2 separate regions of the Homo sapiens genome follow, and region 2 is linked to region 1. A link means that fine-mapping ties the variant in region 1 to the expression of a gene that starts in the linked region. Tissue or cell type: whole blood. Region 1 holds a variant in brackets; the other region holds the start of a gene. All regions are shown on one strand. Distances are between the middles of the regions.

Region 1 (8,107 bases):
ATTATCGAGAACTCTGTCTCCTAGAGCCTCCCCTCCTCTGAAGGGGCCTTTACCTTCTTTCACTGAAGCCTGGCTGTCCTCAAGCTCCCTGCTCCTTGCAGCCACTCAGGTTGAGGCTGGTTTCTGTCGCCTACAGGCAGGTGTCAGGCAGGGCCTGGACGTAGAGGGGTTACTCATTTCTCCCTCTCAGTCCTCAGACTCTTTTTTTCTTCCCCCAGTGACTTCAGTCCCCAGCTCCTCTCTCCATCCACCTTTACTTTCACGGACGCTGACACCCACCTGGACCACTCTGACAACATCCTGGCTCCCCAACTTCATCAGACCCTTGCCTTCTTTGATTTCAGCCACCTCTGAGATCTGAAAATTTGCTTTTATTTAAAAAATGTCTTAAGTTTACATATGTAAAATTCTTTTTCTGATGTACAGGTCTATGGTTTCTTAGACACGCGTGGATTCTCACAGCCACCACCACAGACAGTACAAGCAACAGTTCCAATACTCCAGAGAACGCCCTCATCTCTCCTCACCCCTGCCTTCTGGCAAGCAATGAGCTGTTCTCTGTTCCTGTATTTTTGCCTTTTCTAGAATGCCATATAAATGGAATTATATAGAATGTGCCCTTTTGGTACTGGCCTCTTTTGTTCAAAAGAATAATACCTTTGAGATTCATCCATGCTGTTGTTTGAATCAAGCATGTTAACTTTTATTGCTGAGTAGTAGTCCATTGTGTAGATATATTACAGTTTTTTAAAAATCTACCCCTGTCGAAGGACATTTGGGTTGTTTTCAGTTCTTGGTGAGGATGAACATTTGTGTGCAGATTTTGTGTGGACTTAAAATCTTGACTTCTTTAAAATACCTAGAAGTGGTCATTGCTGGGTCCTATGTATGTGAGATCTCAACTGTAAGTTTCCTCTCCTCTGACAACTGTGCCCCATCCACATGGTTCCTTTCTCTAACATATCACACTGACCACTGTGACCTCACTAAGACCTCCAATTCACTGAGCCTGCCATTTTTTTCATTGATCATGAACCTATTCATTTTTTCTTTCCTTCTCACACAACTTAGTGATCCATCGTAATAGTCATCCTACTGGAAACTTTCCTCACTCCCTTAAACATACCGTCCTGGCTGAACCACAACCTGGTAAACTCAACTACCCACCCATTCAGTCTCCATTAGAGTAGAACAGTGTGGCTAGAAGAAAACACAATTGTGCCATGGGCCAGTTCATGACCATAAATCTCACCTGAGCTTCTGATACTGATCATCGATCAGTCTGACCTTCTAGTGACTATTTCATACTTGTATCTCTTCAAACCTCTGACAGCCTCATATATCACTGGGGAAATAGCGATCAGACTAGAGATTGCTTATTATCCTCCCACCACCAATTCCACCTGACGGACTAAGGCTTTACTCTCTTCTCTGCCTTCCCCCTTTTAAAACGATGAACTGTCCATGCTTCTGTCTGAAGCCAGCCCCTCGATGGTGCAGTGGATTCCATCCGTGCCCATCCCACCTTTTCAATCATTTTACTTCTGCAATTATCCCCCCCTTTCCTGTCTTCATCAACTTTCTGCCATCACCGTATATACGTTTCCTAATGTAGCTCATCTTCAAAAATGATGTCCCTCCTGGCTCCCCAAAACCAGTAACTTTACAGTGGAGAGACCTGACAAAACACCTCAGCCAGGTGATCAAGGCAACGAGTCATGACGGCGGAATGTACCCTTGCTGTGATGTGAGGAGGTGATAATGGCACTGTACCTCTTTGGTCTTCCTTTCCAAAACCCACAACCTCTGTCCAACCAGAAAAACACCAGACAAATCCAAATGGAAGGATGTTCTACAAAATACTTAACTAGCACTCCTCAGAATTGTCAAGGCCGTCAAAAGTGGGGAAAACCTAAGAGAAGCCTAAGGAGACGTGACAAGTAAATGTAATGTGGTATCCTGAATAGGACCTTAGAACAGAAAAAGAAAGATATTAAGTAACACTAAAAACTGGAATAAAGTACAGGCTTTAGATAATAAGGTACCAATACTGGTTCATTAATTGTGACTTATGTACCATAGTAATGTTAACAATAGAGGAGGCCAGGCACGGTGGCTCACGTCTATATTCCTACCGCTTTGGGAGGCCGAGGCAGGAGGATCACTTGAGCCCACGAGTTTGAGACCAGCCTGGGCAACATAGGGAAACCCCGTCTCTATTCTAAAAATAAAATAAAATAATAGAGGAAACTGAGTGCAGGGAACTCTTATAATGGTCTCACAGCCTTTCTGTAAACCTAAAACTATTCTAAGATAAAAGTCGATTAAATATGAAACCACACACACACACACATACACACACACACACATATACACTCCCACACACTCCCCTGACCCATGTCATCCTCTTGCTCCACTCCATTTCCCTGCTTTCCTGCACAGGGAACCTTCCCAAACGAGTTGTATATTGCTACGGTCTCTGTTTCCCCACTCCAGCCAGCTCATTCCTCAGTCTACTCCAATCTGCTGTCCTTAGCTCCCCACCAAACCTGCTCTTGTTAAGGTTGATGGTGAGCTCCATGTTGGCAAATCCGAGTCAATTTTTTTCCCCTTCCCTTACCTTTCAGTCTAGTGTGTGTGTAATGCAGTTCACTATGCCCTACTTCCCGCAGCACCCTTATCACTTGGCTTTTGAGATACTATACCCCTGGATTTCTTTCTGCTCCTTGGGTGCTCCTGCTCAGTCTGGCTTCTACCAGTGGCCTAGGTTCTGTCTCCCGACCTCTGTTCTTTGCACTTCTATCTCAGAGGCATATTTCATCCCAGCTCATGGAGTTAAGTACAATTTACCTACTGCACATACCCAAATTTGTATCTCCAGCTTTAAACCCTATGAGGTAGGGACTGCTGTCACCACCATTCTACAGAACAGCAGACTTAGGCTATCAGATGTTTAAGGGGCTTCCTTGAGGTTACACAGCAGGAAGCAGCAGGGCTGGGATTTGAACCTAGGTCCGTCTGACTCTAGGTCTGTGTTGTGAGTTGCCAGGCTGCCCGGCCGCCCCCTCCTTCCCAGCTCCCGTCCTGCCTGCCCCCCAGGGCCTCTTGCATGTATTGCTCATTCTGGCCTCAGGCCTTTGTCTCCCTGGTCCACTTCTCCTGGAATGACCTCTTTTCCCGCTGCCTGTCTAATCCTCTTCCATCCCAGCTCTGGTGGGAGATTCTTCACTCCTAAGACCCAGGCTGATCTCTGCTGGCCTCCTCTGGACATTTGCAGGAGTTGAAGTCCACCCTAAAACAACCAAGGGCTCATTTGCATCAATAGTTATCATGCTTTCTGAACCCGCGATGGGACCCTTGGCCCAAGTACAGCTGCACCCGCGGGGACGCGGAAGCACGTGATCTAATGCTTGGACTGGCTGGGAAAACTGGGCCATGGGCCTCCATCATCCCACACCATCTCAGACAGGGTCTCAGTCATCCAGGCGGGCTTTGTTTGGTTCCCCTACTAGCTGGGAAGCTTCTAGAAGGAAGGATCATGATTGCCGAAGAAGTATCATTTTTAAACACTGTGTATTAGGTGGGGCTGGGGAAGTACTTCAAAATCCTTTTCTCCTGGGTCCTGGGGGACCAAGAAAAGTTCAGTCTAGTAGTGAAAGAATTGATTTAGACTTCATTTGAGGTCACAGAGAGGCCAAGCAGTTCCCACAGGGGTCGCTGAGCTCAGAGGAATGTTTGGAAGAAATGGGGGTGACAGGATCATTTTTGGAAGAACTGAGAGTGCCGGAGGGAAGTGAGGAGCAGGAGGCTGGAAGGAAGATTTGGGAAGGGCCATGTGGGAGGCCCAGTGCTGGCTGAGACAGTGAGCGGTGACCTCTGGGGCAGAGAACACAGCCCTTTCACTTACGTGAGTTCAGCCCCAGTTCCCATGATGCTGGCCTGGGCTCTGGCCCCCACCCTGCCACTAACTCCCTGTGTGACTGTAGGCAAGTCGCTTTGTTTTCCTGGGCATCAGTTTCCTCATCTCTAAAATGAGGAGGTTGAAAAAAAGAAGTGATGGGGTTGGGC[G/A]ACATTGTTTCTCAGCCCCTCTCAGCATCTGAGATAACATCCTGTGCTGTCTTACCCAGGGCCACTACCTCAGGGAAGGAAGAGCCGGGTTAACCTGACTGTTCTTCTGCAGGCCTCCTGGTAAAAGTTTCTTTTTCACAAAAAAGCAGTCTCTTTTGTGCGGGATCCAGGAGAGGAAGGATGTTAAGTGGTTGAATCTTGCATGTTGTAAAAGAAATGAATCTGCATTTCCGTGATCTCCAGAAAAAAAACAGTTCATTCACTCTCCACCCCCATCTGAACATGGGCATCAAAGCCCATGCTGCGGAATGGGATCAGTTTTGCCCTGCATGATCAGAAGGGGCAGGGTTGGCCCTTCTCTACTAGGTAGGGCCTTCTGAGGTTCCAGCCTTGGGTCAGAGTCCCTCTCCCAGAGAGATTCCTCATCCATAAGCCAGCCAACCAAGACAAGTGCTGAGATGTTGTCACAGCCCACCAGGGTTTGCTTGCCTAGAGGGGAATATATCTAGCATCAGGAGGACCCCCAATGGCTGAACGATTGCTGATTCTGCTCGGGCCCCTACCTTGGTCCTTGCACATCTGGTCACACAGGCATGTACCTACTCCTGAGTCACCTACATTTTGAAAATACAAAATCGGGAGCATTTAAGTCAGTCTTCACTGGATTGCTTGAGGCAAAACATGAAGCAGTGATGGCTTGTGTGGGTCTTGTGTCTTGTGCTTGGAGGCTGAGCTCCTCTGACCCATCAGGAACAATGGCTTCGTTGTGTTCCTGGCTTGCTCTGGCTTGCTCGCTGGACTTGGAAGCAAGAGGAGCTTTGAGCTGCCCAGCACCCCCAGGAGCAGGAGGGTATAATCATGGCCCAAGGACAGCACTGTGGACCCCATGGGACCCTGCAGTTGTTAGGGGGCTGGGATGGATAGCACCTTTCCAGGCCTGGATCCTGAATTAGCCAGTGCTTAGAGGCAACTCTGCTCCTGAAGGATGGGCTGAGATGTGTCAGTCACAGAAAAGCTTCAGAAAAGAACAGGTGATGTTTTCAGGAAGTCCAAGATGGCAGGCAAAGGTGGGTAGGAACCTGGCAGAGCCCAGAAACTCCAATCTGAAGGTCCAGGCCCCAAGATTTGGAAGAGAAGAGTAAGCAAAAGAACCAGAAGGAGGTCTAAAGGCTAAAGTAATAAAGACATGAATTTTCTATTTAGAAATGAGAACAGGGTCCTGTCATAAAATCAGCCTCCCAGCCATCAGTCTAAGGTGTAAGAGGAGAGACGCACTGGCCAGGAAGGGGTTTCAGTTTCATTTCTCCCATCAACAAGCTGTGACTTGCTTAAGTCATAAGATCCTCAGTTTCAGCTGTAGAATGGGTGCCCATGGCATTGCTTAGACCTAGGATCCAGTGAGCTAACAAGCTAACAAACATGTGAGACCATACTATATGGACCAAATGCTTAGGCAAAGTACATGCTGCTGGAATGGCTGGTTCTAGGGTAGACAGTGAGAGCGCAGGCTGCTGCACGGTCTCTCCCCTTGCCCCCATCTCTCCATGGAGACAAAGGTCTGCTCACAAGCAGGTCATGATCTGGAAAAGTGAAATTTGAATTGGGGAACATATCATGCTCATGTCCAGTTCTGGGCTTTCACTGTGCTCTGTCTCTGGCCGAGGGGATCTCTGCTCTTCCCAATCACAGTCTACCTGGGAAGACCCTACTCCAGCCCAGCCGCCTCCAAATTGAAGTCCTAATGCCCAGGCTGCCCCTTTCCCTTCGGGACCTCCATCCCAAAGTGCACTATGTGAATATACAGAACAGTGTGGCTCTCAAACGACTTCATGTAATTTTCTGAAAGCAGAGACCATGACTTCTTTCCTTGGGTTCCCCATAGGATACAAAAAATGGCCCCGAGGCACATAGATAGATAGATAGAAAAATACTTGCAGAAATATGGAAGATACAATATGAATTTTCAGACTTAGGCAACTACCAAGTATTTAACACAGTCTTTCCTTCACCAGTCTTATCAGCTCACTTCAGTAGTCTCATAAAGGTCTGTGCTAATGTTCAATTTATATGAACGACTTAATACTTCACTTTACATTGGCATAGCCCATGATAAATCCACAGGAAATAAGAGCCACCAGCAGTGGTAGGATCAGAATACTTTAATAAGATACCAGTGTCAAAATACATTTCCTTATAAAGTTAAGCTCCCATACAGTTATAATGTTGTCAGTAGGAATTCGACAATATAATAACGTTCATGAAATCGTTACGTTGACAGGTAGGGTTAATATGAAGCTTGGAATATTTTTCAGTGTTTTAGTAAAACTGCAAGGGTAAAATGCCCTTAATGCCAGGGCAACACACACAGGAAATCAAATACCAGCATTTACACGTCAGTAACCCTTCAAGTTCTGCCACCCTGTGTGGGGTAATGCCGTGCAGCTAAAATATGATTTACGCAACACCATGACTAAGGAATTTCTCATAGAACTTAAATTTCTTTTGAAAGCTATTTTTTGTTTTTGGCAATAAGTCTATCCGGGCTTACTAAATAGTTGGCCCAATGTGCTTTGTGTGTGTTTTTAGAAACTTCTTCATTGTACCCATTACAGAAAAGTTCCATGTAATTGGTATTGAAAAACCAGAGGTGTCGTCCCTCTTACCCAGGGAGTTGCAAAGTGCTCTGGGAACACTATTTTCAGTGCTTCCTACCTACATGTCACTGACCGACCCAGAGACCTCAGCCAGGGCCTGTGGCTAGGGGCCATCCCTGGAGGCCTTGCGGGGCCATCTGGCTGCCGGCTGAGTGGGGGCTGCAGGGCTGGTCTGGACCAGCTGCTCTCCCGCTGTGCAGCCTCCTCCTCAGTCCAGCTCCACGGGGCTCCAAGGTCGTGAGCTTGGAGGACGTGGACGGGGTCACTATACCATTTTTGACCCCTCATTTGCATGAATTCCCGTCTAAACCATCTCATGGTAGTTCTGGAAATGTCCAAATGTGCCGTGTGAAAGACCATCCGAGTCACATAGCTCAGTGCACTTGAAGGGCTAGCAACAAAACCTTAAGAAAAGTTAGAGCACTTCCCCGCCCCACCCCCCGACCCCACAACGTGCCATCAGACCCTCTTGGCAGCAATAATAATAATACATACATACATAGTACATAGAGAATGTGAGGGGATAGCGCGCAGTGCTCCCGCTGAATGACTCCACTGCTCGGATTGTCACACCTATGGCATATCACAGATGGCAAAAAGCCGACAGAGGGAGGCCTTCCACAGTGTCCGTACAGGCCGTGGGAGCACTGGACAAGTCTGCAGTGTCCACAACACTAAGAAAAATTAACAGCTTCGAAAAGATCTTAAAGTGATTTTGTGAGCAGGATTCCATTTCCGTTTCTAAGTTTTTAGATATTACAAAGTACCCATATATATGATAAACACTTAACCCAGATATAAATTTTCTCCTCTTTTAAAAAACTCAGTTATGTTTTTGAATAATAATAAAAAATCCACCAAATGCGGGGGAAAAACACCAGTTTAGGAAAAGCCACGCTGTGCAACTTTCACAGATAACCACATACGTTGGAGTTGACCCTTCACATTTCTTTTTTTCCAAAATTAGAGCAAAGAGTCAGCTTAAACAAAAAAAAAAAAACCCTGAAATTTACAATATGGTGATTAGTTTAAAAAAGAAACGAGAAGGGCTCTGCGAGGGAGACGCCACAAACCAAGCTTGGAAAGCAAAATCATTTTTGTTTCTCTTTGGCAACAACAATAACGAGGAATCTTTTTAGTAAAATGAAGCTAAAGCTTCTCCCTACAGAAGAACAGACATGCACCAAACTTGTTAGTATGGACAGTTGTGTGTGAGAAGGAGAAGGAGGGAGAGAAACCTATGGATAATATAAATTAGAAGTCATTGAAGGTGGGGAGGAAAAAAATCCTACAAAATTTAAGAACATTTCAGAACAGGTAAAACAATTGTGTACTTTAAAAATAGGGATAATAAAGTGAGCATCTCAGAAAAAGGCCACTGCTTG
Region 2 (8,107 bases), 91 kb after region 1:
CCATTTCTAAACACTTTACTTAATAAATTCCTAGAAAGTTGAGAATCACCACTGCCCCCCCCCCCGACGCACGGGCACACACACACACACACACACACACACACACAGAGAGAAAGAGGGACATTCTAAGTAAATTAAACTGTTTAGTCTCACAGTTTTCACTCCTAGTGAAAATGCCAACTAACCCAGTACAAAAATCAATCTAGCAGCTGCTTGAATGTTCTCTACCTCAAAAAGCAATCTGCTCCACTGAGGAGCGGTCCTTGCATTGGTTTTGTTTAATGAGGTCTACCTATATAAGTAGATTTTTTTCTAACTAAAACAATGAATTCATACTTCTCAAAGTTTACAGACACTGGGAACAGCATCAATTCAACTCTGCTTCCTTTTTTTTTTTTTTTCAAAAAGCAAACAGAATCATCACTTCTACTGCAGCCTAAAGGTGTTGATAATTATCCAGAAAAGCAAATCTCCTTTCTATAAGGTTCAGCGGTTTGAGAGTTGTGATGGGGAAGGCACTCCTTCGGAAATCATCCTCACTATCTAGAGATATTTCAGGGCTGGGGTACTCTCCTGTGAACAATAGGAAAATACATACTTAATTGAAAGTAATAAACCAGGGTTCTGACTTTTTTTTTTTTTTTTTTCTTTGAGACGGAATTTCACTCTTGCCCAGGCTGGAGTGCAGCAGCGCTATCTCCGCTCACTGCAGCCTCTACCTCCCGGGTTCAAGCAATTCTCCTGCCTCAGCCTCCAGAATAGCTGGGATTACAGGCACCCACCACCACGCCCGGCTAATTTTTTTGTGTTTTTAATAGAGACGGGGTTTCACCATGTTGACCAGGCTGGTCTTGAACTCCTGACCTCAGGTGATCCGCAGCCTCAGCCTCCCAAAGTGCTGGGATTACAGGCATGAGCCACCGCGACCAGCCCTGACTCTTATCAGCACTAATTTTCCTTGTGACCGGAGAAGTCTTTTAACCTCTCTCGGCATCAGTTTCCTTATCCAGAAAGAGAAAAGTCTGACTAGATGATTTCCATGGTCTCTTATAAAATAATTCTAGGCTCCCTATAAGCACCACTGAAAAAAACTTGAAATGATGGCATTCTTTTGAACTTCATGAAAACTGTATGAATTAAAACTTAAATACTCAAGCCAACAATGTGTTACATCAATTCTGTATCATCCTGCGCTGCTGGTAATACAATGGAAACATATCAAGTGTGGAGGGAATATTTATTTAAAATATATGTTTAAATTGAGAGAAACTGTCCAGCAATATTTTTTCCCTTCAGAGTTGGAATAATGATGGAGTTTGATTTGATTTTAGAAGAGGAACAACTAAGTCCAGCTGTCAGAAGGAGGGGGAGATTGGAGATCCAGGTGTCTCCAATTCCCCTTCCACGCTAGCCCTGTACTGAGCACTACTGTATAAGCACTCTGGGAAGGTGTCTGGACCTAGGTCTGGCTTTGGGACTGGACTTTGATCCCTGATTATCCAAGGATCTCATTTACATTTGCCTGAACCACTCCTCAAACCCCGTGAATCCCAGAATTTCCACATTTTTTTCCCAGTGAAAGGACTCAGGCATTCCTGATAGATGCGTGCACAAAAAGGTGAGTGAAAGTGCAGTACCCCCACCCACCAGGCTTCAGTTTCTGACATCTGTGATGTCACCGCAAATGCCCACTACCACCAAAACTGGTACTATCAAGGACACCCAGCCAACTAACATTTAGAAAGCAAACTCTTTATTATTAAACATTAACATATTTATCGACGTGTGAACATTCTGGGACAAAATCATCTGCCCACTTCTTGACGGGCCATTGTTAGAACGAATATTCCAAATGTTCTGCCCATATTGCATTTGGGGGAAGAAACTGCTCTGCTAAACCAAAGAAACACAAAATGTAAGAACTAGTGGGCAGAATCATCAGCAGAGAGCCCCCTCACTGTCACATCGCCCTTGTGAGGCACTCAGAAAAGCTACAGCAGTCACTTACATGACAACACCAACTTTCAATGTATTGGTTCACATATTTTAATTACATCTTGGTCCCTAAAGAAGCCTGCAGCCAGCAAACAGACCCAGGCACGAAAAGTAAATGAGTCTCAAACTGATTAGCCCAATAGGAATTGGACAACCCCTTAAGGGGCTCTAGATGGTGAAGGACACGCTGTTTGCCCTGCCATTCTGCAGCACAAAAATCCAGGCAGGTCGAAGAGGGCGGACACCCTCGCGTGGCCACCAGCCCGGAGCCGCAGCTCACACAGCGGCCTCCAAGGCGTTTCGCAGGCAGTCCCCACAGTGGTTCTTAAAGCGGCCGCTCTCGCCAATAATTGGGAGTCTAATTACGCAACGTTCTTCCCGCTCCCATTCCCGCTTCTTCTCTCTTTCCAACAGTCCGCTAACGAACCAGGTACTGTAGCTGGGTGTGTCGAAATCATTTTTCCCCTGCTCCCAAGTTTCTCGGTATATACGGTACAAAACTGCACAAAACCCGGCGCTAAGGAGCGCAGGAGGAGCTGACACTTCACACATTTGTCAAGATTACTGTCAGGCCCCACCTCGGCGATTGCCACATTCCCGATAGGCATCGCAGTTGTAAAATACACAAGTTCCCTCCCCGGCTCCGGACCCGAAAGCGTCTGCAGGCGCTGTCTATAACTTTGCTTTTCGATGGTTCAGTCATTATTAGCATTATGATTGGTTTTTACAAAACGCACTGGAATCTTAAGAGTCTTTTCCTTGCTCTGCTGCCTTCAAAAGACATGGAACCCCAGGACTGCTCCGAGGGCCCTGGGAATGTGCCGGCTGCAGTCTCAGGGCTCCCTCACTTGTCTTGGGTCTGAGGGCGCGACGGTGACGAGAAAGGGGGGACTACGGCCAGGAAAGGGGAGCAGGGCCCAATCCCCTCCCCTAGCGATCCCGCAGTGAAGGGCCCGGGCGCCGAGCCAGGACAGGCGCGATTCGCTCCCGTTTATCAAATCCTTATCGGTGCCCCGAGGTGGGAACCGCTGCTTTCGACCGGAGGATACACGGTTTCTGGCTCCAGTCCCGTAGTGGAAGTTGGAACAAGAGCAAATCAACCTCGGCAGTGAGCCCTCCCGGCCAGTCACCTCCCTCCCTTAGCGAGTCGGTCCTCCTCATCCTCGCACCTCTATACCGCCGCTCCGCCGCTGGTTTCCCGCGGCTCAGGCGGTTCAGCCGGCCGCGCGTTGGATTCCAGCTTCCCGCAGCATAGCCTCGCCAAGCCGCGGCCAAGCGCGGGGCTGGAAGCTCCAGGCCACTGGGGCCGCACGGGTGGAGACAGGAGGAGAAAGGGGACAGGCGGCGAGCCGCACACATTTGCAGAAGTTGAGGCCCTGCCTGCTTCTGCGCGGCCGCGCAGAGGGCTCGAACCCTCGCTCGGGTAGCGCCGGGCCCGGCTGGACTGGGAGCGGCCGGGAGAGGGCGAGAGGGCAGCAAGAAATGGCCAGAGTTGCCTCTCACCCAGTGCCGAGAGGCTCGCGAGGGCAGGCGGGCAGATCGTGGCTGCCCTTCTCTGTCCTCTTCGGAGACAGACACCCGGACCTGCCAGGGACATCCAGTGTTGCCGTCCGCTTCCTACACACCGAACCATCTGCCCCCGCAGGGCAATCCAGGTCACTCACTACCTACTCTCCCCAGAGTCAAGGTGCGGCACGAGGAAGTGGGTTCTCCAACCTTCGGTGGGGTCTGGAGCCCGGCAGCGGGGCGCTCTGAAGGGTCCTGGCTCCTCGGTAGGATCGTGTCCCTGAGCCGCTCTCCGCCTCCCGCCCCCCTTTGCCCACTTGGGCCGCGGCGCGGGCACAGGAGCGCATTTGGAAGGACTCCGCGAATCCAGAGAAAAATAGAGACGTGGATGCTGCCCCAAAATGAGAGACCAGAGAAAGTCGAGGACATGCACCCACAAACATTTCCAAGCGCCGGTGGCCACGGTAATCTGCTGCGGGGCGGCTGGGAGATTTTCAAAGGCACCGCGGAAGCACCTCCGACCTCCAGGCCATCTCCCTCGGCCTCCTGGCCTCGCCGTGCGCGCAAATCCCCGACTCCTCCGAGCCGCAGAAGTCTCCACTGCAAAGCTGCTGATCCGCGCCCCCAAACCGGGCACATGCTCTCCCCCTCACAGCCCTCCAAACCGAGCCTCGAGCTCCGAAGACCTCTCAGCACTCTTCTCCCAACCACTCTCGGTCGCGCCTGCCCCGCGCAGCCCGGCCCTGGCCTCGGACCGGCCCCCTGATCGGCCCGGACGCCCGCTTACCTTTTCTTCTCCTTGTCAGCTGTCATTGTCGCTGTGGCCCTTTGAGACGTTCAGACGCCGAGCACCTGGGCTCCCTGGCGGGTGGGGGGCTGTGGCCCTCGTCCGCTCCCCGCGGCCCGGGCGGGTGGTGAAGGTCCGAGGTGCGCGCAGGTCCCGAGCGCCCCGCGCAGTCAGGTGGAAGGTGGCGCGCGGCGGGCTAGGTGCGGGGGCGGGGGTGGAGAAAGGTGACTGGGAGGAACCTGCGCGCGGAGGCGGGGTCCGGGGAAGGAGTGGGTGGAGGCTGTCAGACCCGAAAAGAGGACGGAGAGAAGGGAACCCAAGTTCCTTTTTCCCTGGAAAAGGAGTCACTTTTCTGAGTTTTCAAAGAAAAAAAAAAGTGGCTCGAATGCTGGGAGTCGGAAGGAGTCGGAGGCCGGGCTGAGCTGACCATACAGTCTCAGGACACTGCCGAGGATTGTACGGCCGCCTCAGGAGCGCTGGGGCGGAAGCGCAGCGGGCACCGGACCCGTGTGGCGGTCCGCTCGCGAGTGTAAAGCTCCCGCGGCCGGCAGCCCACTTTAAAAACTCCGTCGGCCGGCTTGGGGCGGGCACGGGGCGGGCGCGGAGGGCGGGGGGCGGGCACCGGCGCGGGTGTGTGGGCGGGCACGCGCCGGCAGGCCCCGCCCGCGCCGAGCTCCGGGCGGCTCACTGCGTCCCGGCCAATGGGGACGCGCGGCCGCAGCCTCTGCCCTGACCCTGGCCCGCCTCCTGCCCCCGCGCTGCGCCCCGCCTCCTGCCTCCGCACTTCGAGGACTTGTTTATGAGGTCGTCTGGGCGGCGGGTAGCGGGGTGGGACTCCGCGTCGGGGAGAGGCAGCCTGCGCAGGGCCGAGGGGCGGCCGGGAGCCGGGCTCCGGGATTGCTGCGGGGGACGGCAGTTGCGCCACAGCGTCGGTGTCCTCGTACCGGCGCCGTGCCCTTGGAACGAGGGCAGGACCGCGGGCAGCGCCGGGCCAGCGCGGAGCCCCTCCACGCTGCTGCGCTCCTGCGTCCCTGGCCCTCGGGCCAGGTGGGGATAATTTCTCGGCCCCCAGCGGCTGCGTTTCGGGCGTGGGCGATGCGCCCTTTTCGGTGGGACGCAGCTGACTTGACCGTCTGGGAGAAGCAGTGCAAGGAAATTGATCTAGGGCTGCGCCTACTCTTCCTTCCCTCTCCCAGCAGGGTGGTTGCTTACCGGCTTGTGCCAGGCGGTTTGGTTTTGGCGGGGATGCGGCAGAGGAGGCCCTTTGAGCCGCCCGAGGCCGGGGCGAGTTCAGAATTGGAGAAGTCAGTCTGGTTCCCCAGTGTGATCTTGGAGTGACAAGAGTTGGCCATGTGCCCTCAAGTCACTGCATCTCAGGCCTGCCCTCTCTGCCGCCAGGGTCGATGGAAGTCCTGGGAAACCCAAAGGCTACAGGTGTTGGAAATTTGTAGATTTAAGGGCTCACACAGGCAACGGTTAGCGCTCAGGGATTTTCCAGCGGCGCTTTTGACGCTGCCTTCCATCTCCGGGCCCAGTGCTCCCCTGCCCCGCGCTGAGCTGTCTCCCACTCGCTACCGGCGATGGGGAAGGGACATCTGGGGAGAGGACAGGGGACGCCCTTAGTTTTTGAAGGCTGTGGAAGGACCCATGAGTTTCACAGGTGTAACTTGAAGTTGGAAAGCGAGGGCCAAAGAACTGGTCTATATCTCTCCCTTTAGCCTCTTGCCACATTTTATACTAGAACGATCTACAGAAGCGATTTGAAGAGAAGGGTAGGTTTCAGCGCCATAATAAAAATGAACACGTGTTTTCCCCGTGTACACAGAAAGGGTTGGGGGAGATACTTTTCAGGAGCCTGGAGAAGGCGAAGTGGGGAGAGGGCAAAAACTGACGAAGAATTGGGAAATACTTTTTTTTTTTTTTTGAGACTGAGTCCCACTCTGTCGCCCAGGCTGGAGTGCTGTGGCCCCATCTCGACTCACTGCAACCTCCGCTTCCCGCGATTCTTGTGGCTCAGCCTCCGGAGTAACTGGAATTAAAGGCGCCCACCACCACCCTCAGCTAATTTTTGTATTTTTAGTAGAGACGGGAGTTTTACCATGTTGGCCAGGCTGGTCTCAAACTCCTGACCTCAAGTGATCTGCCCAACTTGGCCTCTCAAAGTATTGGGATTACAGGCGTGAGTCACTGTGCCCGGCCGGGAAGTAGACGTATTTTGTCATTTTCTCAGATCTCGGGGCACGGAGCACCTATACAGGTTGATAGTCAACGAATTCAAAGATTGCAAATCTCTCTCTAGCGAACTATTTCATGGGGCTGGTGGGTTTCAGGAACGGGGTGATTTGGTACTGGGCTTCTCCAGCCAGCCATTTCTAGTGGACACATTTATGTATTTTAATGAGTTCAAATTGGTAGATAGTTCTCCCTTAACCATAGGCTTATTTCCCTCACTTGGGACTAGAGTGCGGGAAAAGGGCACCTTGGTGGCTTCCAGGTGCCTACAGTAGTTCACCACAACAGCCTCTGAGTCCTGGACTGTGCTTGACAGATCGAGGCAACACCTCCAACCCATAGAGAACATAGCCTTTTAGATCTTGTTTTTAAAGAGGAAAGGCAAGGAGGGGTCACTCAAGACCACATCAACCTAAGAAGACATGGACACATGGGAGGAACAGCACAGACTGGGGCGTGTCAGAGGGTGAGGGGTGGGAGGAGGGAGAGCATCAGGAACAATAGCTAACGGATGCTGGGCTTAATACCTAGGTGATGGGATGATCTGTGCAGTGGACCACCATGGTACACATTTACCTATGTAACAAACCTGCACATCCTGCACATGTACCCCTGAGCTTAAATGTTAGAAATTCCATCAACCATGTTATATAGCTCCTTCCTCTTGGCCAGACTGCACCCTATAAGTGAAGGATCCCCAGGCTAACACAAACAGCTGGCATTGAGTCTGGGATTTTTTTTTTTTCTTTAGACAATCTCACTCTGTTGCGCAGGTTGGAGCGGAGTGGCACGATCTTGGCGCACTGCAACCTCCACGTCCCGGGTTCAAGCTATTCCCCTGCCTCAGCCTCCCAAGTAGCTAGGACTACAGATGTGCACCACCATGCCCGGCTAATTTTTGTATTTTTAGTAGAGATGGAGTTTTGCCATGTTGGCCAGGCTGGTCTGGAACTCCTGGCCTCATGTGATCCACCCACCTGGGCTTCCCAGAGTGCTGGGATTATACGCATAAGCCACCGCACCTTGCCAAGTCCGGGATTTTGGCAGTGTCTGAGATACACCAAAAACTCATTATAATAACTCTCAAAAGGGTTGCACCCAGCCTTGCTTAGAGCAGAGCCGGGTGGCCTGAGATTTCTTCCAGGACTCAGCTCAATAACCTTTGCAGGAAGGAGCTGAGAGTGTAAACCAGATGCAGGCTGTGGCTAGGGTGCATCCAATTTTACTTTTTAGAGCCTGTGGAGAACTAGAGGAGAAAAACTTTGAAAGGTGATGCTGGGGCAGTGAGTGGGGGATGGGGAGCTGGGTCCCCGGATTCAGAGGGGTGTCTTTAGAGACACTGATGTTGTGGCCACAGAGGGCAGCAGAGGACACCGGTAGGCAAAGCTCCCAAGCTGCTTAAAATAGGAGCAAACTGCCCACCTCCCAGCAAATCTCCCTACCTGCCCCCCAACCCTGTATTGGATGGTTTGGGAACAAAAGCTGTGGCACCAGTGAAACACCTATTTGTTTTGACAAGGGACAAATCTGATTCTCTTGCTTCCTCTTTTCTTTGTAGGGTGTGCCCTCAGGAGGATGGGATAGAGA

What was found. PIP is the estimated chance that this variant, and not a neighbour inherited with it, causes the effect.
Region 2: EPAS1 starts here. The variant in region 1 is fine-mapped to the expression of EPAS1 in whole blood (TOPMed, PIP above 0.99).

What each region holds. Positions count from the first base shown.
Region 1 is chr2:46,384,803-46,392,909 of GRCh38, reverse strand. It overlaps EPAS1 (endothelial PAS domain protein 1), which reads right to left. Exons shown (of 16, transcript NM_001430.5): 16 at 6,213-8,107. It overlaps LINC01820 (long intergenic non-protein coding RNA 1820), which reads left to right. Exons shown (of 3, transcript NR_146999.1): 3 at 427-617. Among named protein-coding and RNA genes, the nearest start is that of LINC01820, 5.3 kb to the left of the region's middle. RefSeq lists an enhancer at 7,963-8,107. The variant G/A (reference allele first, on the strand shown) is at 4,069.
Region 2 is chr2:46,294,119-46,302,225 of GRCh38, reverse strand. It overlaps EPAS1 (endothelial PAS domain protein 1), which reads right to left and starts at 4,819. Exons shown (of 16, transcript NM_001430.5): 1 at 4,289-4,819. The coding sequence starts at 4,314. RefSeq lists silencers at 4,226-4,555, 4,786-5,365.